Linked DNA regions of Homo sapiens: region 2 is linked to region 1. Evidence: fine-mapped expression QTL. A gene starts in region 1. The other region holds a variant in brackets. All regions are shown on one strand. Distances are between the middles of the regions.

The links.
Region 2: its variant is fine-mapped to the expression of HBP1 in whole blood (TOPMed, PIP 0.95).

Annotation. Positions count from the first base shown.
Region 1 is chr7:107,162,305-107,173,355 of GRCh38, forward strand. It overlaps HBP1 (HMG-box transcription factor 1), which reads left to right and starts at 6,699. Exons shown (of 11, transcript NM_012257.4): 1 at 6,699-6,881. RefSeq lists silencers at 6,227-6,800, 6,819-6,918, 7,179-7,398 and an enhancer at 6,349-6,508.
Region 2 is chr7:107,214,504-107,225,877 of GRCh38, forward strand. The region is part of intron 19 of COG5 (component of oligomeric golgi complex 5); the gene reads right to left. It overlaps LOC124901721 (a long non-coding RNA gene), which reads left to right and starts at 7,559. Exons shown (of 3, transcript XR_007060472.1): 1 at 7,559-7,647. The variant C/T (reference allele first, on the strand shown) is at 5,063.

The DNA.
Region 1 (11,051 bases):
TTAGCTGGGCGTGGTGGCATGTGCCTGTAGTCCCAGCTACTCAGGAGGCTGACGCAGGAGAATCGCTTGAACCTGGGAGGCAGAAGTTGGAGTGAGCCGAGATTGTGCCACTGCACTCCAGCCTGGTGACAGAGCGAGACTCCGTCCATAAAACAAACAAGCTTAAAAATTCTTCAAGTGAAACGGCATGAAGCAAGAGACTTCGGATTTTATTGAAATGTAAAATTTAAAAACGCTGTGTTCTTTCCCTTCCCAAAGCATCTTTAAAGATACTGATAGAATTTTTCCTCTCAAAAAACGTTATAAAGGATGAGATGACCTTTGCCATTCTTAAGGAAAATTAATACTGTGTAGGCCTAGAGAGGTGAGTCATACATCTGGATTAAGGCAGAGCTTTGTTAAATTGCTGGACGGGATTCTTAAAAAAAAAAAAATTTACTACCTAAGAGAAATATAGTTTTTAAGGAATGCTGGCTTCTAAAATTTAGTGTTTGGTATAGCCTGATGCCAAGTATCAGAAAGAATTTTGACAAAAATGAAGAATTGGAATGAGTTGAGACAACCTTACCTGTTCTAGAATACTTTTAAAGGCAGCAAAACTGGTTGAATAGACTACAGAGTTGTTCATCTTCACAGGTATAAAAACCCTTTAAAAGTGTAATGAATTATGGAAATATAAGCAGTAAAGTATACCAGTTATTTGCAGAAGACTTGTGTCAATAACTATGAGACCTTAAATCAGTTCAATTTGTATACCTAAGGACAATCAGTGACTTCACTAAAGTCATTTACTTTGTGAGTCAATGGCAGAACTTATGGAAAATTGAGATATATTGATTCTTCATCCAATTCATGGCCTCATATATTTTCCCAAATAATGTTAATGAGCCTGGCATATAAATTGGTATATAGTTTCCAATGCAGAGAATAAGATTATTTTGAGAGGAAAACTTTTGATGTGACCAACAGATCTGGGTCTTTCTTTACCTTTTTATGCTTCAAATTTATAAATCTAAAATTGCCTAGAAAATCCTGAAGAAGTATGTATCACATATATAGGAAAATGTGGTGATACATGATAGGGAAGTAATGTCTACACCACAAAAATGAATGCTACCTACCAAGGAGGTGGTTTTCACAGATTTTGATGTAACCATAGCCTGAGTCTCATCATTTTTCCAAATATAAAAAATGCTACTACAAAATGTATATATATTAAATCATGTTTTATCAGCACCAATTATAACTGATTCATTATAGCATATAAATGCATTTTTTACTGTCACTGGAAAACAGAAAATGACCTTTTTTTCAGGCACAAGGGAAAGTTTTCTGTAGCTTTTGACTGTAACAACCCAGACATGAAACCTTAAATATTTTCTATTTAACTTGAAAAGAAAGGTTACAAAGTAGACCTTCGAATGAGTTTATGAACAGGAAATATGACCAGTTAAAATCTTAGATAAAGTTGCTATTGATGACTGGTTTTCCATCTTGGTTCTAATCAGAAACCTTCCTAGATCTTGCTGAGGAACAAGAGAATAAACTCTGCATCCCTGAAACTTCATCACCTCTCTTAGGCCAAGGGCTGACATTTAATACAAGTGTACTTCCTTTACATAATGACTATATTCTTGAGGTATATACAAATGACATTTTTTAAAAGCCAAGCAATATTTTAAGAAAGGTGCACACTATAAAGACATCTTTGGTAAATCTATTTTCTCATAATTGCACTTTAAAGCTGAACAATTAAATATCCTCAACATTTTTATTACTTATATTCTGTATAACTTGAAGGAGTTGAAGTGTTAATTAGGTTGGTGCAAGAGTAATTGTGGTTTTTGCCATTTTTTAAATGGTAAAAATGGTAAAAATCACAATTACTTTTGCAGCAACCCAATACTTTGTTTGCCTTTGAGTGACTGACACTGTGAGGGAAACAAAAATGAATAATAGTGCTTATCATATAAACATAGCTGAAAGATGAGACGTTCTCAAATAATAACAATGATTACATAGAGGAAGTGACAGTTAAAGTGCATGCAAGTTATTTAACAAAGTCAAATATTCAGACCAGCATCCTATATATAGTGCTACACTACGCTGTATATGAGAAAATTCATGCTGCTTGTCTCCCCTTTTTATTCATTTGTTCCACAGGTAGGTATTTTTTTAATAGCTTATTATGGACCAGACAAAAAAAAGCGCATGAGATGGTGACTGATAAGGAGAGAATGTAAATGTGGAGGGGGGACAAATGTAAGCAACAATATTCAGTTTAGCACAGTGTGATAAAAGCGATGTGTGTACTATTCCTACTTTTTTTTTTTTGAGACAGAGTCTGGCTCTGTCACCCAGGCTGGAGTGCAATGGTGTGATCTCGGTTCACTGAAACCTCTGCCTCCTGGGTTCAAACGTTTCTCCTGCCTCAGCCTCCCGAGTAGCTGGGAATACAGGTGCGTGCCACCACACCCAGCTAATTTTTGTATTTTTAGTAGAGATGGGGTTTCACCATTTCGGCCAGGATGGTTTTGATCTCTTGACCTTGTGATCTGCCCACCTCAGCCTCCCAAAGTTCTGGGATTACAGGCGTGAGCCACCGTGCCCCGCCCTATTCCTACAATTTTAATTGCTCTTTATCTGACTTAATTGCACTTAAAATGAGGTACTTTTTGCTAGCAACTAAACATAGAGAAGGTCCTAGGATACCAAATAGACGGGAGTAGAAAATACTATGTGAGAGTTTGTGTTAAATAGTTCAGATAACAGTAATGATCTCTAGAAAACTTGCAGGACATGAGAATAGTCATTTGAGCTTGATTTTAAACATCGAGAGTGAGATGAAATAGAATTGTTGCCTTCTCTAAATACATTTTCATTTATACCAAATTAGACTTGACAAAAACTTTTTGGGAAAAATTGGGATAAAAAAATGAGTACTCCTCTCTATGTCCTGAGGATACCCAGGTTTATTTCTCCAGACTTGGACTTCCTAAATGCCAGATGAATATATTCAGCTGCCCAAGGACCTCTGGACTCAAATTTCTTCCTGCACAGCATGCTTATCACCCGAGGTTGAACCTATCCTTTCCCTTCCTCCCAGTCCCCAAATCTGCTATCCTCTCCAGCATTCCCTCAGTCAATAACATCAACATAACCACCCTTCCCCAACATACTGCAATTACCCAAGCTGGAGACACAATCATTTTGATTCTTCCCTTTTACGTTGATTTTTCTTCCTAATGTGGTTATAGTGTTAAGACATTAGCTTATCAGCCACTGAAGAAAGGTCTTGCTTTCTGGTCATCGGAGCAAAATCTAAACTTCAGTTGCATCAAGAACTACAGGAACAGGAGACAGATGACTCACTTCTACAATGGCCATCATTAGCTCCTGTGGATTTCATTACAACTTGACTGAATTACCTGAGTACTTTGAACTAATTAGAAAATTAACTCATTTGAAAGGATAGTAAGGTATATGGAAGGATATTTGTTGGAGTTTAAACATTCAAGATGCTGTCTGAAAACTTTGAGAAGTACTTAGACCATACATGTGTTCAATTTCTCCATTTAGTACTTGTTCATGTGATTTCATTTGTTTACCTTTTGACAATTCAAAGTGATTATTTTCAATATCAGGCAATGCATGTACTTGAACTTCTCTGTAGTTAAGCAAAGCAGTCATTGGTGTGTCAAATATGGTGGAATCAGGGAAACACATTATTTCACTCCTAAATAGGATTTACCGGTTTTTTGTTTTTCTTCTGTTCGTTTTTTACTATCTCTAACAAATTAGAACTTGATATTTAAGATAACAGAGGTAACTTTACAAACCGCTGGAAAGACATTTTGATTTGACAATTTCTTGACATTTTTTTGCATACATTTTATGTGTGTATATGTGTGTATAGATATGGTGACTGTACCAATCAAGAAGAGGTGTTATTTAAAGTAACTGATTTTTTAACTTCAATTTTATCATGGAAACATCTGAAAGATAGTTAAAAACTGTAGTTATATCTGTTTTAGTCTGAGAGTATAATTAGCACATGTAAAAATTTCCAAGGAGATCTTACTAGTTTTGTACTTTGATCTTTGTTCTGGCTTATAAGTTGGCTAGTTTTATTGGTCACTCAATTAATGATGATGTCTCTGGTAAATACACATAAGCTACTAATGTGGTCATTTAGCCCCCCACGGAAGTCAGAAGATTGGACTAAGTGTCCACTTAAAGGTGTAGCGAATTCTAATACTAGTATTTAATCAGTTGTGACTAAACTATCTAAATTTAACTCATATTAAAGACTTGGATAAAAATGAGAAAAAGTGTGCAAAAAATGTTTTCTATCTTTTTATTCTCAATAATTGGCACAGTGGTCAAAAAATGGAACTAAACGTTTCTGAATGAATGGAAAAGGCTTTATGGAGCTATTAAAGGATAAATTATTATTTGTAACATATTGTACAATATCTGGATCTAAAGTTGAATTTTTTTTCCCCATTTCCGGTGTCCCCCGATAAAAAAAATCACCACTAAGGCATTTGGTAAAAACTTTAAAATAGTTTAACTTTTAAAAACAAGGTTTAGCTGAAAGCAGATCTCACAGTTTGTGTACTGGAGAGGGGTAAAGCAGTATGTCAATCTCTTGCCAGCTCTTTTTTTTTTTTTTTTTTAAGAGAAAAGTTTTTTAGTTTTCTAGGAGGAGTTAGACATAAATATCTCAAAACAATTTTAAATAATTAGGTGAACTTCACAGATTTTTCTTTTTTGTCAAGAAATTACATGTTGGAGTAGAGTTTATATTTTCTATTCTAGTACACGATGACCCTCCATTGTAAAAAAAAAAAAAAAAAAAAAAAGCATACACAAAGTAGCAGAGACATTCATTTCTTTGAGTCACTAATAATTTCTGAAAGATGATAAATTCAAATCCTGTCCTTTTTCCTCAGGGAAAAAATTAAGCATTCTGTTGGCTCTCCTCTGAATTATTTTAATAAAAAATAGAATGCTTTATTACTATTTGTGAACATAGAAAGTAAGTATTTGATTACACGGGAGGACTACTTTATAATTTCACTTCACGGATTCAAATGGGGAATTCTCAAGAATTTTAAACTCGATTTCAACATGTGGGGGCTTATTTTGGATTTCTTGATTTGTTACGCGGCTTTCAGGTATATTTAAAAATCCAAGAAATGCAGGAGGTTTTAAAGAAATAACTAGCTGTGTGATTTCTGGCTCTGTCCAAAGGTTTGCTTTTACAGATTTCTTACTAATGTAGGTTTTCCTCATCTTAATTCTAAGCATATATTTAGTGATCTAAAGTTAGAAAATCTAAAGCACAATTTAAATGATTAAACACTAAAGGTTCAAAGGGGGGAAAAAGCTTAATCATGCCTTTGTAATGTGAATGGTAAAGACACCAATTATTGACTAGATGCAGCCGACTGTGAATGGACAGCCATGTTTAAAGAGAAGTTAACTATAAAGCAGGGAAGCGTCTCTGGTGAGTCAGAGAATTCGTAACTTGAGGAACTCCTAGTGGAAATGAAGTGGAAAGACAGTTTCTTTCATCAATGAGAAAACGTCTAGAAGGAAAAGAGGGTTAATAAAACTCACCAGAGAAACTTACTGATAATGATTCACAAATTAAATCAGTTTACGTCATACATTACACCCTTTGTATTACGTTAACCAACGAGCATACTAATCAGTATGGAAAATGCCGCTTTAACTTGCCTCAATTTCGTAATCGCCCGCCCCCGCCCCCGCTTTGTAAATTCTCTAGACTCCAGCTTCTCGCTTGCTCACAGTCCATCCCCCAGCCTCACTCTTCCTGGCACTTAGGTGGCGGCTCAACAAACTTAGGTGAACTGAACAGAGCTGACAAGGCAATCTCAAGTTGCTGTCCTGGGAGTGGTGAGGCAAGGCACAAGAGAAAGGACTTCTAGTTCTTCCCACTGCCAGTGCAGCCCCCAGCATCACTTTCGACCCCTTCGTGCCTGGGGCCGTGATTTGTGGGTGATCAAGTCCCTCGCTAGCCTGCAGTACTTCCGCTGGTGCAGTCATCTCCTTCCCCTCGCACTAAAACAATACCCTGGCCTCCTGCCAAACTCTTGAGCAGCGAGCAACTCTGGCTGTTTATGGCCCGGATTGGGTGCTGCAAGAGGCTTGGGCCGCTCTAAGTGTTAGCAGAGGCCCGGAGGAAAAGAAGAGGCCCAAGCTTTAAAACACTCCCTTCCTCCGCCCCCTCCCTTTTGTCCCAGACACCAAAACAAACGAGCTGATACACGTGTCCCTATGACTCTTGTTTACTATCAAGACTGCGCTGTGCGAGCGCCTCTGGGATACGTAGTCCAGCTCTTCCCCGGCCAGCAGTCTCCCACAGCCAAGGACCAAGGCTTGAGACTACGAACCCACAATCCATTTCGGGGACAAAGTTTGGCTTGGGTCCCCGGACTCTCGGCAATAGTCCAATCCGAAGCACTTACTCTTGTGATTGACATGCCATCTTCTCCAGTAAACACAACACAAAAGTCAATACATGCCCGCCCCCCGAGACGGACCACGGTACCACCCAATGGGAAAGGGGAAGAACCGAATGGCAGTTCTGCAGTCCAATAAGAGGGCGAAAGAGCTGGGCGGGGCTCAACCCCCAGGGGGTTGAGGGGAGGGGGAAGACGAAGCTTGAAAGACTTGGTAATGGCGACGGGTTTGGTAAGTAGGAAAGTTTCGGTTGAGGAGTAAGAGCTGCCGCGGGAGCAGTAACCCGCGCGGGGGAGGCCGACGTCGGTCGGAGAGGGGGTACGAGAGCTGCTGGTGGTGTTGTCGTGGCCGGAGCGGCCCGCGCCTGGGCTGCCGGCACTTCGCGGCAGGTTTGTTGTCTTTCAGTTAGGGAAGAGGTGGGGGTGGGGAAGGGAGGGGCAGGAGCGCGGGGGATTGGGCAGACTGGAGGGCTCGGGTCCTCGTTCCTTCTTCTCGGAGGGTTGCCCTTGGGGTGGGGGCAGTTAACCGTTCGATTGGTGCCCGCGGCGAGCCCACCGGAGCAGCGTCTCCCGCGAGCTCACCTGGGCTTCGGGGCGGCGGCGCTAGGGGGTCTCGGGCGGGGGCCGGGAGGAGGCAGGGGGAGGGCGAAGTTCCGGGCCAGGTCGCGCGGTGGGTGGCCGGGCCGGGTGTGGAGATGGGGCGGGCCAGGGCGGGGGAAGGGGCCGACGCAGCGCCGGGGCTGCCCAGGAAAGTTTGACTTCAACTCCCCGTTTGTGGGCGGAGGGTCGGAGCTTGGCCAGGGGTGGGGGGCTGGCCGGAGGTGGGGGACCCCAGTGAGGCGCCGCCTCCTTCTGGACTGAGGGGGATTCTGGCTGAGCTGAGGAGCTCGCGGAGCCGCTGGGCCCCGGGGCTCATTGTTACGCAGTTCGAATGAATGGGCTCCCAGGCGCCTGCGCGCTGGGGCTGAGCCGAGGGGAAAAACAAGCCCGGAGTCCGGGCTGCGGTCACATGATGGGGGGAAGGGAGGGGAACGCGATGAATGGCGAAAGAGGGTGGGGGATGGACTTGGCGTGAACCGGGAGGCACCGCTCTGTGTGACCCAAAGAGGAGGCTTGGCAGGCGATTCCAGTCTCCGCCTTTCAACCTATGCTGCCACCGCAGGCCGATTGAAACAAAACAAAACAAACCAGGCGAAGTGGACAGCCAGGTTTTTGTAGCTTTAAATGCTGCGTGCTGTCTAGGGTGTTTCACTCTCCGCTGTGCACTCTACACTCGAGTTCATTCTTAGGGAGTTTTCAGCTACAGTCGTTTTTAGAAGGAGCACTGACAGCGAGGTAATACTCAAGTTTTCTGTTTGTTTTGTTTTTGGCTCATGGTGCCACTGATGCCAGGACGAGAGGAGGCTTAGAAAAGGAGTTATACATACTGGGAAGCGATGGAGTCCTACTAACAGCTCGGATGGAGGCTTTAGCTTTATTAATACTTCCCTCTGAATAGCCGTAAGCACTCCTAATAGTGGTTTTGAAATTAAAGGTACTTTTTGAGAATTAGAATAATTTTAACATTGGAAATACTTTTCTGGTCATTTAACAGTGATCTAAATCTGCAATGTATGTCTTGTACTTTTGGTTTTTTTTTGCTATTTTCCTTTATCTTGCAAATGAGTGTGGTAGAGTCGGTCATCTGTTCAGTTGCCTTGGTTAAACTCAGTTCTTGCAAGGTAGACAGTAGTTGACAAAATTTCAAGGAAATTTGAATTATATTGAGAATTAAATCCACTCCCTAAAGTTTTTGGGTTATGTTATACTTTTGAGGAGCCGTTTAACCACTTTAAAGCAAAATATTGTTTGTGCTTTCTCTACTGATAAATTATAGAATGAAGTTTTGATTTCACTTTCTAGTTTCATCTTAGTTTTGTAAACCTACTTATCTTTTCTGTCTCGAAAACCCTTCCTCTTTCTTAACTTCTCAAACTCCTAACTACATACCCTAGTTAAAAGGGTACCTTCTCCCAGGATTGCCCACCTACATGTCTCCGCTATCCTGTGTGCTTCACAGGGCATACCTCTCAGACGTCAAACATGATACTGTCACTGTAAGAGTTGTTTTCTTCACTATATACATATGTATATGTATAAAATATATAACATATACATGTATATATATAAAATATATAACATACATGTATATATATAAAATATATAACATATACATGTATATATATAAAATATATAACATATACATGTATAAATATATATATATATATATATATATATATTTTTTTTTTTTTTTGAGAGGGAGTCTCGCTCTGTCGCCAGGCTGGAGTGCAGGGGTGCGATCTCGGCTCACTGCAACCTCCACCTTCTGGGTTCAAGCGATTCTCTTGCCTCAGCCTCCTGAGTAGCTGGGACTACAGGTGAGCGCCACCACTCTCAACTAATTTTTTTGTATTTTTAATAGAAACGGGGTTTCACCATTTTGAGCAGGATGGTCTCAATCTCCTGACCTCGTGATCTGCCCGCCTCGGCCTCCCAAAGTGCTGGGATTACAGGTGTGAGCCACCGTGCCCGGCCCACTATATTTTAACTTCTTTGGATTCTTTCCTCACTAATCGAAGTGGCCAGTGAAGAAGGCATATGGCACGATGGCATGGACTTATGAAACTGCTCTGTGCTGAGGGTTCTTCAGGGTGAATTGCAAGCTGGTGTTTTGTATATGTGTTTGAAATAAAAATACTGGTACTCCCCTTTCCACCCCACGCATACATTATCCATTAGAAGTTACTACTGTCCCAGCACGGTGTCTCACGCCTGTCCCAGCGCTTTGAGAGGCTGAGGCGGGTGGATCACCTGAGGTCAGGGGTTCAAGACCAGCCTCGCCAACGTCGTGAAATTGTCTATTAAAAATACAACAGTTAGCTGGGCATGGTGGCGCACACCTGTAGTCCCAGCTGCTTGGGAGGCTGAGGCAAGGGAATCGCTTGAACCCGGGAGGCAGAGATTGCAGTGAGACAAGATCAGGCCACTGTACTCCAGCCTGGGCATCAGAACGAGACTTCCTCTCCAAAAAAAAAAAAAAAAAAGAGTCAATGCCAGGAATTTTATGTCTGTTAAGTATGAAAGTGAGTATTTACTTAGAATGGAAAAATAAATCACAATGAATTAAAAAAAAATTAAAGCTGCCAGATACCTGCATATCACAAAATTCAGGGAAAAATGGCATACTCTAATATTCTTATTAATTGCCTGATATCAGTAACATTCACATTTTTCATATACTTATCAGCATTTACTTTGGTGCTTCATAATTTCTACTATCATTTTCTATAGAGAAACTAGAAACATAATTTTCTCCATAATTGTGGTTGAGTTTTTAAAAGTTATTGATCATAGCTTTAAAAAAAAGCTTTTCCCACAAGTTTTTATAGATAATGTAAAAATGTTTAGGAGTTTATCTTATACTTTTGAGGAGCCATTTAACCACTTTAAAGCAAAATATTGTTTGTGCTTACTCGACTGATAAATTATAGAATGAAGTTTTGATTTCACTTTCTAGTTTCATCTTAGTTTTGTAAACTCAGTGAACCACATTATGGAGAAAATTATGTTTCTAGTTTCTCCATAGAAAATGATAATAGAAATTATGAAGCACCAAAGTTTAGGAAAACAAGTTTCATAAGAATTTTTAGATGATGTCGTTTTAATATGTGACTTATCTTATATGACTCATCTTAAATACTTATTTGAATTGACAGTACTCCTAAAACAGTTTGTGGATGACTGCTTCTGCTATTAATGGGTTTTCTATTGTCTTGATCAATATAGTATTTCATGTTGAATGAGCATGAAATTACTAAGAACTTGTATAGATGTGGATTGGGCAGTGTCTGTGGGATGTAATATCTTTTATACCTACAACAATTCTGATAGGTAGATAGGTACTAGTCCCATTTTTTTTTACTTATTTTTAAAAATTTTTTAGAGATGGGATCTTGCTATGTTGCCCTGGTTGGTCTTGAACTCCTGGCTCAAGCGATCTTCCTGTCTTGGTCTCCCAAAGTGCTGGCATTGCAGGCCTGAGTGACTGGGCCTGGCCACTAGTCTTATTTACAAATAAAAAAAACAGGTCCAAATAAGAAAACAGGCCTAGAGATTTAATTGTTCAGGGCCATGAAAGTGGTAAGTGACCAAAACGAATCCACTAAGGGTTTTTGTTGTTGTTTTGTCTTTTCTTGTAGCCCGGTGGCAAACTAGAGTTGTAGACAAATACCTGTGAAATCTTTTGAAGTTTTGTTGAAAATACTCTAAAAGAACAGCATTACAGCCTCAGAGATGCTTTTGGTATAGAAAGTTGCATTTAATATACTTTGTTATGGAGGCTTGTTTTAGCATGTAATTATGTAATCCATTTAAAATACCTCAGTTTCAGAGATAGAAATTAATTGCAAATTACCTTTTCTTCACCTACTCTTTGAAAACAATTTGAGCGTGTAGTCTGGACTGGTTATGGAAATCCTTCAGGATTAGGGGAGAGCATATAGAAGATCCTGCTGTGGATTC
Region 2 (11,374 bases), 52 kb after region 1:
AAATATATGAAAACACAAAAATCAATGCTATAAATAATATAGAGTCATACTCAGAAAAACCTAGAAGTGTAATAGTGGTCTGTAAAATAATTTTATCTCTAATACAAGGTTAAAAACTATTAAAATTAGAGCTCAAGGCCAGGCACAGTGACTCATGCCTATAATCCCAGTACTTTCAAAGGCTGAGGTGGGCGGATCACTTTGGGCCAGAAGTTCCAGACCAGCCTGGTCAACATGGCAAAACCCTGTCTTTACCAAAAGTACAAAAATTAGCCAGGCATGGTGGTGTACACCTGTGGTCCCAGCTACTTAGGAGGCTGAATCATGAGAATCGCTTGAACGGGGAGGTGGTGGTTGTAGTGAGCCAAGATGGCACCAATGCACCCCAGCCTGGGTGATAGAGCGAGACTCTGTCTCAAAAAAAAAAAAAAGAAAAAAGAAAACAAAAGTATAGCCCAAATTAGGGATACAAATTACAAAATGATGTATATTTTGACATCAAAATATTAAAATGTGTAGGGAAGGGGAATAAAAATGTAGAGTTGTTGTATGTTATCAAAATTCAGTGTTATCAGCTTGAAATACCCTGTTATGAGTATATGGTTTTTGGAAGCCTCATGGTAAGTACAAAACAACAATCTAGAGTAGAGGCACAAAACATACATAGAAAGAATTCAAAGCATACCACTACAGAAAACAATCAGACCACAAAGGAGGACAGCAAGAGAGGAACAAGGAAACAAAGCATCCACAAAACAATCAGAGAACAAACTACAAACTAGTATTATTGAGTCCTTACCTATCAATAATTATTTTAAGAGCAATAAAATCTCCATTTGTAAAAGAAAAAATGGCTGAATGTATAAAAAATAAGACCCAGCTGGCTGGGTGTGGTGGCTCACGCCTGTAATCCCAGCACTTTGGGAGGCCGTGGTGGGTGGATCACAAGGTCAGGAGATCGAGACCATGCTGTGAATGGGGAAACCCCATCTCTACTAAAAATACAAAAAATTAGCTGGGTGTGGTGGCGGGCACCTGTAGTCCCAGCTACTCGGGAGGCTGAGGCAGGAGAATGGCGTGAACCCGGGAGGCAGAGTTTGCAGTGAGCCAAGATTGTACCACAGCACTTACAGCCTGGGTGACAGAGTGAGACTCCGTCTCAAACAAACAAACAAACAAACAAACCCAGCTATGTGCTGCCTACAAAAGAGTCAACTCACTTCTTTTTTTTTTTTGAGACGGAGTCTTGCTTTGTAGCCCAGGCTGGAATGCCTTGGTTCACTGCAAGCTCTGCCTCCTGGGTTCACGCCATTCCCCTGCCTCAGCCTACGGAGTAGCTGGGACTAGAGGCGCCTGCCACCACACCTGGCTAATTTTTTATATTTTTAGTAGAGATGGGGTTTCACCGTGTTAGCCAGGATGGTCTCGATCTCCTGACCTTGTGATCCACCCACCTCGGCCTCCCAAAGTGCTGGGATTACAGGCATGAGCCACTGCGCCTGGCCCGAGACTCAACTCATTTCTAAGGACACAAAGAATAAAAGTGAAAGTATGAAGAAAGATATTCCATGCAAATGGAAACTGAGAGAGGCAGGACTAGCTATCCCTTTATCAGACAAAATAGACTTAAGCTCAAAGCAATAAAAAAAGGCAAAGAAAGTCATCATGATAAAGGTGTCAATTCATCAAGAGGATATAACAACTGTAAATATATCTGTACCCAACATCAGAGCACCTAAATATGTAAAGCAAATATTAAATAATTTAAAGACAGAAATAACTTACAATGCAGTAATTGTAGGGGACTTCAATACCTCACTTTCAACAACGGCAGATCATCCAGATAGAAAGTTAATAAGGAAACAATGAACTTGAACTACATTTTAGACCAAATGGACCCAACAGACATATACAGCATATTCTATCCAACAGCAAGGGAACAGACGTCTTCTCAAGTGCACACGTATCTTGCTTCAGGATATGTCATATGTTAGGTCGCAAACCAAGTTTGAACAAATTTAGGAGAAATGAAATCATATCAAGTATCTTTTCTAATCAGAATGGTATGAAACTAGACATCAATAATAGGAAAAATCTTTGAAATGCCACAAATATGTGGAAATTAAACAACATGCCCCTCAACAACCAATGGGTCAAAGGAGAAAACAAAAGAGAAATCAAAAAACATCTTGGAACAAATGAAAATGGAAATGCAATATACCAAAACGTATGGGATACAGCAAAAGCAGTTCTAAGAAGGAAATTTATAGCAACAAATACTTAAATAAAAATAAACATCTCAAATAAAGAACCTACTCAAGAAACTACAAGAGAAGAACAAATTTAAGCCCAAAGTTAGCAGAAGGAAAACAATTCAAAGATCAGAGCAGAAATAAATACAGACTAGAAAACCAGGGGAAAAAATCAACAAAACAAAGAGTTTTTTGAAAAGTTAAACAAGATTGACAAACCCTTAACTAGACTAAAAAAGAAAAAGAGAAGACTTAAATCAAATTGGAAATGAAAGAGAAGATATTACAACTGGTACCACTGAAATACAAAGGATAATGAGCGATTACTATGACAAATCATATGGCCACAAATCCAGTAAACTAGAAAAAAATGGATAAAATTCCTAGACACATATAATCTACTAACACTGAATCAAGAAGAAATAGAAAACAGAAATAGAACAAACAGAGAATCTGAGCAGACCAATAATGAGTAAAGAGATTGGATCCATAATAAAAAGTCTCCAATCAAAGAAAAGCCCAGGACCTGATGGCTCCACAGGTGAATTCTATAAAAGGTTTAAAGAAGAGCTAATACCAATCCTTCTCAAACTTGTCCAAAAAAATCAAAAAGGAAGGAATACTTCCAAGCTAGTTTTAGGAGGCCCTGATACTAAAGCCACAAAATGACATAGAAGAAACTTACAGGGCAATATCCTTGATGAACATAGATATGAAGATACAAAATCCTCAACAAACTACTAACAAATCCAATTCTACGGCACATTAAGAGGATTATTCACAATGATCAAATGAGATTTCTCCCTGGGAGAAATGCAAGGATGTGTCAACATATATACATCAATAAATGTGATGCATCGTATCAGCAGAACAAAAGACAAAAACCATATGATCATTTTATTAGATGCGGAAAAAGCATTTGACAAAATTCAACACCCTTTTATAATAAAAACTCTCAACAAATTAACGGCCACATACGATAAGCCTACAGCTAACATTATACTCAATGGTGAAAAGTTGAAAGCTTTTCCTCTAAGATCAGGAACAAGACAAAGATGTCCACTGTCAGCAAGCACTTTTATTCATAATCCTACTGGAGGTCTTTGTCAGAGCAATTAGGCAAGAGAAAGAAAGAAAAGGCACTCAAATAGAAAAGAAAGACATGAAATATTACCTGCTTGCATATGACATTATCTTACATATCCAAAACCAAAAAGATACCACCAAAAGACAGAACTAATAAAGGAATAAGGTCCCAGGATACAAAATTAAGACAAATCTAATCAATAACAATGAATGATCTGAAAAGGAAATCAAGAAAATACCTACATATAATAGCTACAAGAATGTAAAATACTTAGGAATAAATGTACTTAGGAATAAATTTAACCATGGAAGTGAAAGATTTGTACACTAAAAACCGTAAAACATTGATGAAATAAATTGACAAAAAAATAAATGGAAAGCTATTCTGTGTTCACGGACTTGAAGAATTAATATTGTTAAAATGTCCATACTATCCAAACCAATCTTCAGATTCAATGCAATCCCTATGAAAATTCCAATGTCTTTTTCCCCAGAAATAGAAAACATAATCCTAAAATTCATATGGAACCATAAAAATCCCTGATTAGCTAAGGCAATCATAAGTAAAAATAACAAAGCTGGAGGTATCACTACCTAATTTTAAACTATATTACAGAGCTATATAGTAATTAGAATAGCATGGTACTGGCATATAAATAGAAACACTAAGAAATAGAACAGAACATAGAGCCCATAAATGAACCCACACATTTACAGTCAATTGATTTTCAACAAAGGTGCCAAGAAAACACAATGGGAAAAGGACAGCCTCTCCAATAAAGGGTGTTGGGACAACTGGATATCCATCTAAAGAAGAATAATTTGGACCCTTAGGTCATACCATATAAAAAATCAATTCAAAAACGGATAAAAGTCAAGGTGTGGTCTTGAAAGGACTTGAAACTGTAAAAAAAACTAGAAGAAAGAAAACATAGGGGGAAACTTCCATGACACTGGTCTGGGAGGTAACTTTTTGGATTTGATCCCAAAAGCTGAGACAATAAAAGAAAAAATAGACAAATGGGATTACATTAAAGTAAAAAGCTTCTGCACAGCAAAAGAAATAATGAGAATAAAAAGACAACTAATAGATTAGAAGAAAGCCATACATCTGATAAGAAGCTAACATTCAAAATCTATACGGAACACAAAAATGGCAAGAAAACTACCCAATTTAAAAATGTGCAAAAAACCTGAATAGATGTTTCTCAAAAAAAGTCATATAAATGACCAACAGATATATGAAAAAATGCTCAACATCACTAATCATAAGGAAAATGCAAATTAAAACCACAATGAGATATCACCTCATGCCTGTCAGAATGACTATTATTTAAAAAAATGAAAGATTGTGGTGAGAGTGTGGGGGAAAAGGGAACCCTTGTACACTGTTGGTGGGAATGTAAATTAATACAACCATTTTGGAAAACTGTATGGCAGTTCCTCAAAAAACTAAAAATAGAATTACAATATGACTTAGCAACCCCACTTGAGTACATATCCTAAAGACTTGAAATTGGCATGTTGAACAGATAGCGCACTTCATGCTCAATGCAGCATTATTTACGATAGCCAAGTTATGGAATCAATCTAAGTGTCTATCAATGGATGAGTAGATAAAGAAAATATGACATATATACAAAATAGAGTACTATTCAGCCTTCAAAAAGAAGCAAATCCTGTCATTCGACAACACGGATGAGCCTGGAGGACATTACGTTAAG[C/T]TAAATAAACCAGACACAGAAACACAAATACCACATGGTCTCACTTATTTGTGGGATCTTAAACAATAGAACTCATAGAGGCAGAGAACAGAATGGTAGTTACCAGAGGCTAAGGGGGGAGGAAATGGGGAGGTTTTAGTTAAAGGGTACAAAGTTACAGTTAGACAGGAGGAAGATGGTTTTTGAAATCTATTGCACAACATGACGACTATAGTTGGTAGGAATGCATAGTACATTTCAAAATTGCTAATAGAATAAATTTCAAATGTTCTTATCATTAAAAATGCTAAGTGTTTGAGGTGATGTTTTAGTTTGAATTAATCATCCCACACGGTACACATATAATATCACTTTGTACCCCATAAGTGTATACAATAAACAAATATATGTTAACTCATTTATTCTTCTAAAAATCCTATGAGTTAGGTACTATTACATCCCCATTTTACAGATGGGTAAACAGAGGCATAGAGAAATCCAGTAAAAGCTAGAAGTGGCAAAGCAAGGATTCAAACCCAGACAGCCTGGCTCTTAATTCTGCAATGCAGCCTCTTTTAGAATATCAGCTGTAGCAACTACTCATCCTATTTCTAGAACAGCTATGCTGATTCACAGAATCAGTATATACAGAAACAAAGACCTCTAGAGAAAGCACAATTTTGAACTGTCAACAACTTGTACAGAAAAACCTATCTGAGAAAACTAATGTGTACAGGATCATCATTTGAAGGTCACACAATTATCACCTCTCTGGGTACTCCAAATTCTATCTTTGGGTCAAAATGGACCTCTAGTCACTTAGCTACTTGAAGCATATAATCACAATCTCTTTCGGAATTATTTTCACATGGTGTGACCTTAAGTTCCTCTGGGGTAATGGGTGGTGTTGTCTTAAAGGCCTCTGGAAACTGACTCTGGGTTGGAATGATGACGAGGCTATGCCTCAGCTCTGCTCTCCATAGACTGGTTACTATTTGTCCCCAACAGAAAAAGCTAAAATATCTTGCAGCCCTATGGTCCCTGGATGCTGAGCAACTGACATTCCCAGACAGCTCCCTAAACTCCAAATCCAGCCCATGATTCTAACCTGCTCATTGTGACGAGGCTGCTCTCGTGTTTGAGCTATTGCAGGGAAAAAGTGTAATAAGAAGTCCCTCCACCGGGTCACAAGTTCATATTGTAGGTCTGGTGTGCCCAGGCCCTGAAAGGGGACTTTGAGGGATGCAAAGGATAGCGGGACTCATGCCTTCTTTTTTTTTTTTTTTTTTTTTTGAGGCAGTCTCGCTTTGTCGCCCAGGCTGGAATGCAGTGGTGCAATCTTGGCTCACTGCAACCTCTGCCTCCCAGGTTCAAGCGATTCTCCTGCCTCAGCTTCCCAAGTAGCTGATGACAGGCGCCTGCCATCACACCCAGCTAATTTTTGTATTTTTAGTAGAGATGGGGGTTTCACGATGTTGGTCAGGCTGGTCTCAAATTCCTGACCTCAAGTGATCTGTGTGCCTTGGCCTCCCAAAGTGCTGGAATTACAGGCATGAGCCACTGCACCTGGCTTCATGCCCTCACTTCTGTCCTGCTGTCCCTGGTTGTCGTGTTCAGCAGTACATTGGTCCTGTGAGTTTTCCCTTTCTCCATTAGAGCCCATTCTTTGCTCATGCCATGTGATAGAGTAGGGTTCATCTTGAACCCTAGTTTACGATGTGAGAAGACCCCAGGGGTGGGGGTGGGGTTCAGCCCTATATGACAGTCCTTGATTGTTAACGAACAGCAGCCATATGGAATCCTATACTACCTCTACAACAGGAAGGTGATCAAGAATTTTGGTCCTCCCATCTCTTAGTACTTCCCGTATGAAGCTCTCTGTATAAAAGTCCTTATAAGTACTTTAGAATTAAGTGCCAAGAAATGCTTAACTTTCTTGGCCAGGTGTGGTGGCTCACACCTGTAATCCCAGCACTTTGGGAGGCCGAGGCAGGCAGATCATGAGGTCAGGAGATTGAGACCATCCTGGCTAACATGGTGAAATCCCATCTTTACTAAAAATACAAAAAAATTAGCCGGGCATGGTAGCGTGTGCCTGTAGTCCCAGCCACTCGGGAGGCTGAGGCAGGAGAATGGCGTGAACCTGGGAGGCAGAGCTTGCAGTGAGCCGGGATCATGCCACTGCACTCCAGCCTGGGTGACAGAGTGAGACTCCGTCTCAAAAAAAAAAAAAAAAAGAGATGCTTAACTTTCTCTTAGGAATTGATACATTTTCTTCCTTCTGATAATGAGAATCAGATAGCTGATTCTGTTTCTCTCTTATCTTTGGCTTCATGAAGTTTAAAGCCAAGTTTGAAACTTATCTATAGCAATTTAAGTTAGTTTTATGGTTCGAATATTTACATTTTTCTTTTTTTCTTCCAATATATTCTTGACGCAAACTGTAAATGATACAAGGAAGGAAAGAAGGGCAGAAGGGGAAGGACAAGGACGGAGACAGACGAGGAGAGGGAAACAACCTGAACAGTACATGCGCATAACAGCATGTCTAGCAGCCCAGCCCACACAGAGGTTTCTGGCTGAGATGCCTGTCTAAGCCAGGCCTGGTAAGAACCAGCTCATTTTAAAATGGAATCTTCTGGGTAATCACCTGTCCCCCCCTTTTTTTTTTTTGAGATGGAGTCTCGCTCTGTCGCCCAGGCTGGAGTGCAATGGCATTATCTCGGCTCACTGCAACCTCTGCCTCCTGGGCTCAAGTGATTCTCCTGCCTCAGCCTTCTGAGGTGGCTTACAGGATTACAGGGGCGCATGGCACTATGCCCAGCTAATTTTTGTATTTTTAGTAGAGACAGGATTTCACTATGCTGGCCAGGCTGGTCTCAAACTCCTAACCTCGTGATCCGCCCACCTCGGCCTTCCAAAGTGCTGGGATTACAGGCGTGAGCCACCACGCCCAGCCTCACCTGTCCCTTTTAACAGGACTGTCAAAAAATCCATGAAAAGCAAAACTAGATTTGACTCTGTATTGTGCATCACTGTCATAATTACCTGTAAACATCAAACAGACATTTTGTTTTGGGTGCTTGTTTTAAGAAGCTGAAAGAACATAGCTTGAGCACTCCCTTCTCCCTGATTCCAGGTGGAATTTTAAACACTAGCAAGTTAAAAAATAAATAACCATCTAAAGTGCTTTATGAAACAAAAAGAAATAAGGTGTTATAAAATGCAGATACACCAAATGCCACAATATCATTCTTAGAGCATAATATTCTAAATATAGCAGCACTTTCAAGGGTGAACTTTACAGGCAGAAGGTAGTGTCAATTTGTCAACTATTAGGTCTCATTAAAAAAAAACTGCATTTCTACTCAGCAAGATTCACATTTAAACGATTCATAGCTATGCAGCTGTCAGTCTTCTGACAGCTTGTTAAGGCCAATCATGAAGTAAAGTAAGGCAAAAATCCTGCTGCTCCTGTGTCCACATCTAACATCAGTGGTATCCTGAGACAGATATAGGCATCATTCTCTTCCATGCCACTTGCCATCACCCCATCTTGACCTCCTCTTGCTGAAGGGCCTGGGAAGGCAGCAAGACCACTAAGTATGCGTACTGAGGTCTGGAAGCAGCACAGAAATGAAAGAGTGGGAGAAGGAACATGATTCCCTTTGTGGGGCAGGGCACAGGTGGCCATGCTCTCTGCACAGGACACAATGAGGGCCTCTGAGAGAGAAGAGAAAGTGTTGGAGGCCTGTAGAAGGTGAGCATTTCTATGGAGATTCTTTAGGGAGGCCTAGTTTGTGGCACGAGGGGCCATGTGGGTCCCAGGAGAGAATGAAGCAGGAGGCTGATTTGGGTTCAAAGTAGAGAGGTTAAAAATGTCCCTGTCTCAGTCTAGATTGTCTATACCAGCAGACCAGGTAGGAAAGGAGGCAGGGATTTGGGCTGACATTCTCTAAGAATAAAAGCATACATTTGGCTGAGTGTTCCTTGTGTACTGTCTGGGAGCCTGAATGCAACAGAAGACAGTGAGATGAGGCATTTCAGCAGCAGGAGGTGGCCACTAAAGTGGGGAGTTTAGATTCTCTTTAAAATTTTCTGATTTTCCTGGATGATACACGTAAGCATTCAAATCCTGTTCCGGGACCATTCAGATAGAAAACAAACAGAAACTTCTGGAATAAGATGTGGGGTATGGTGGTTACAAGCACAGGCTTTGGAATCAGGCAGCCTGGGTCTAAAATGTGACTCCCAGATTCTCCCACTTTGCTGCTGTGGGTTTTAATTGCCTCATGGGGATCATACCTAACTTTTAAGTGCTGTGAGGGCTAAATGAGGAAGTATCAGTAAAACACTCAGCACAGGCTTGGTATAAAATAAATAACCAAATAATAGTTGTCAGAAATTATAAAAATGATGATAAACTAAATATTCAACTCTTCATGTTTACCTGGGTGCGCTTAGCACTGCCAAAGTTGTAGCAAAGAGCAACAAAACAACTAAGTCCAAGATGGTGGTTGCCTTCTGGCTGTAACACTGAAATCTGAAACTTAGAATTAAGAATCCCGAAACCTCAGAGAAACCGTTATTTCAAGGGATGGGTTAAGGGCTCCAGATCCACAAGCGGAAAGAAAAGACAGAATGCATCTGGAGGGTCTTAGTGTTAAAGGTGCTAAAAATGGAAGCTGCAGAGACGGCCTTCTTTCAGTTCTATAAACATTCAGGCACAGAGGTTTGGAATTTCAATCAACAGAGGATCATAAATACAAACTGTAGACCTAGAAAACCCTCATTACTCCTATAATTAAAAACAATTGACAGGAACACTACATTCTAGTTATTGACAGTTTTCTTCTTCCACTGCTCCTCATGCTAAAAGATCCATCAGAACACAGCCCCTATCTCCTGACAGCTTTCACTGCCCTTTCATTAAGCCTAGCTGGAAATGAGCTTCCAGCCGAGAAGACTGTGGACATCATCAGGGACAAGCTGTCCCTTCAGGAGCAAAGGTGGTGAGGCCTGCCTGAAGGCAGGGTCTGTGCCCCTGAGCTGGTGAAGAGCATTTGCTCCCTTTTCTGCCCTTTGCCTCACAAAGATCTATACTGACAATGTCAAGGGTCACAGCTTTGTGGCCTCTGGCCAGGAGAAGCTGAGGTAACAACCTCACAAACACTACTTAGGGAATAATGCCATGCTGCAGAGAGGTGGACAAAGACGGGGTCTCTATAGCTCTGACACGTGGGTCTTGTGTAGAAATACAAATCACCCAGGGGCAAATCACTAATGTCAAAAGCTTTCAGAGGCAGCATTCTCTACTGAGTATGAAAAGATTCCCGCTGCCTGAGAAACTATAATGTAGACAGTAAAATGTAAATATATGCAAGAAGCTTGCTGGCTTACATAAATAGTCCACTAATATCACCATCAAGAAGAAAGTGCCCCCTGGCAGATGGCTGCATGATGGGGGAAGGGAGCACCTACTAAGGCCTGTGTGTGTGTATGTATGAGGGCGTGTGCATGTGTGTACATGCTGGGTGTGGTCTGGACTCAAACTCCAGCTGGCACTGTCATCTTCCATTATGAAGGGACCCCTGAACTGAGCCCATTGCCCTCCCCTGCAGCCACTGCCCCTAATTGGAACTGAGGCCCTCTGTGGCTATTGCAACCTACTGGCTTTTGGCTGTTTGGCTGCCTGTTTTTCTTGTCAACTCACGCCTGCTCTTTATTGGGTAATGTTTTAGTACATTTTTTTATTACTTTTTAGCTCCATGGTTATTTTCAAATGGGAAAAACAATGCAAGAGAGATTTAAAAATAGTATTTGACTTTTCTGACTATAAAAATAAAATAAGGCAGAAAATTTAAAAAAAATAAAAACCCTAAAAAAAACCCCAAGTGACAATCTTAGTCAAAGATATTTTCATGTTTTTCCTTTTTGTCTTTTATTCTCCATTCAAACAAATACTTTTATTCATTTATTTTATATTTTGGGACAGGGTCTCACTCTGTCACCCAGGCTGGAGTGCAATGACCCAATCACAGCTCACTGCATCCTTGACCTCCCTGAGCTCAGGTCCTCCCACCTTAGCCTACCGAGTAGCTGGGACCACAGATGTGCACCACCATGCCTGGCTAATTTTTCTATCTTTTGTAAAGACAGAGTTTTGCCATGTTGCTGAGGCTAGTAGATGCTATTATTTTAAAAATAGTAGAGGTCGGCTGGGCATGGTGGCTCTTGCCTGTAATCCCAACACTTTGGGAGGCCGAGGCAGGCAGATCACCTGAGGTCAGGAGTTTGAGACCAGCCTGGCCAACGTGGTGAAACCCCGTCTCT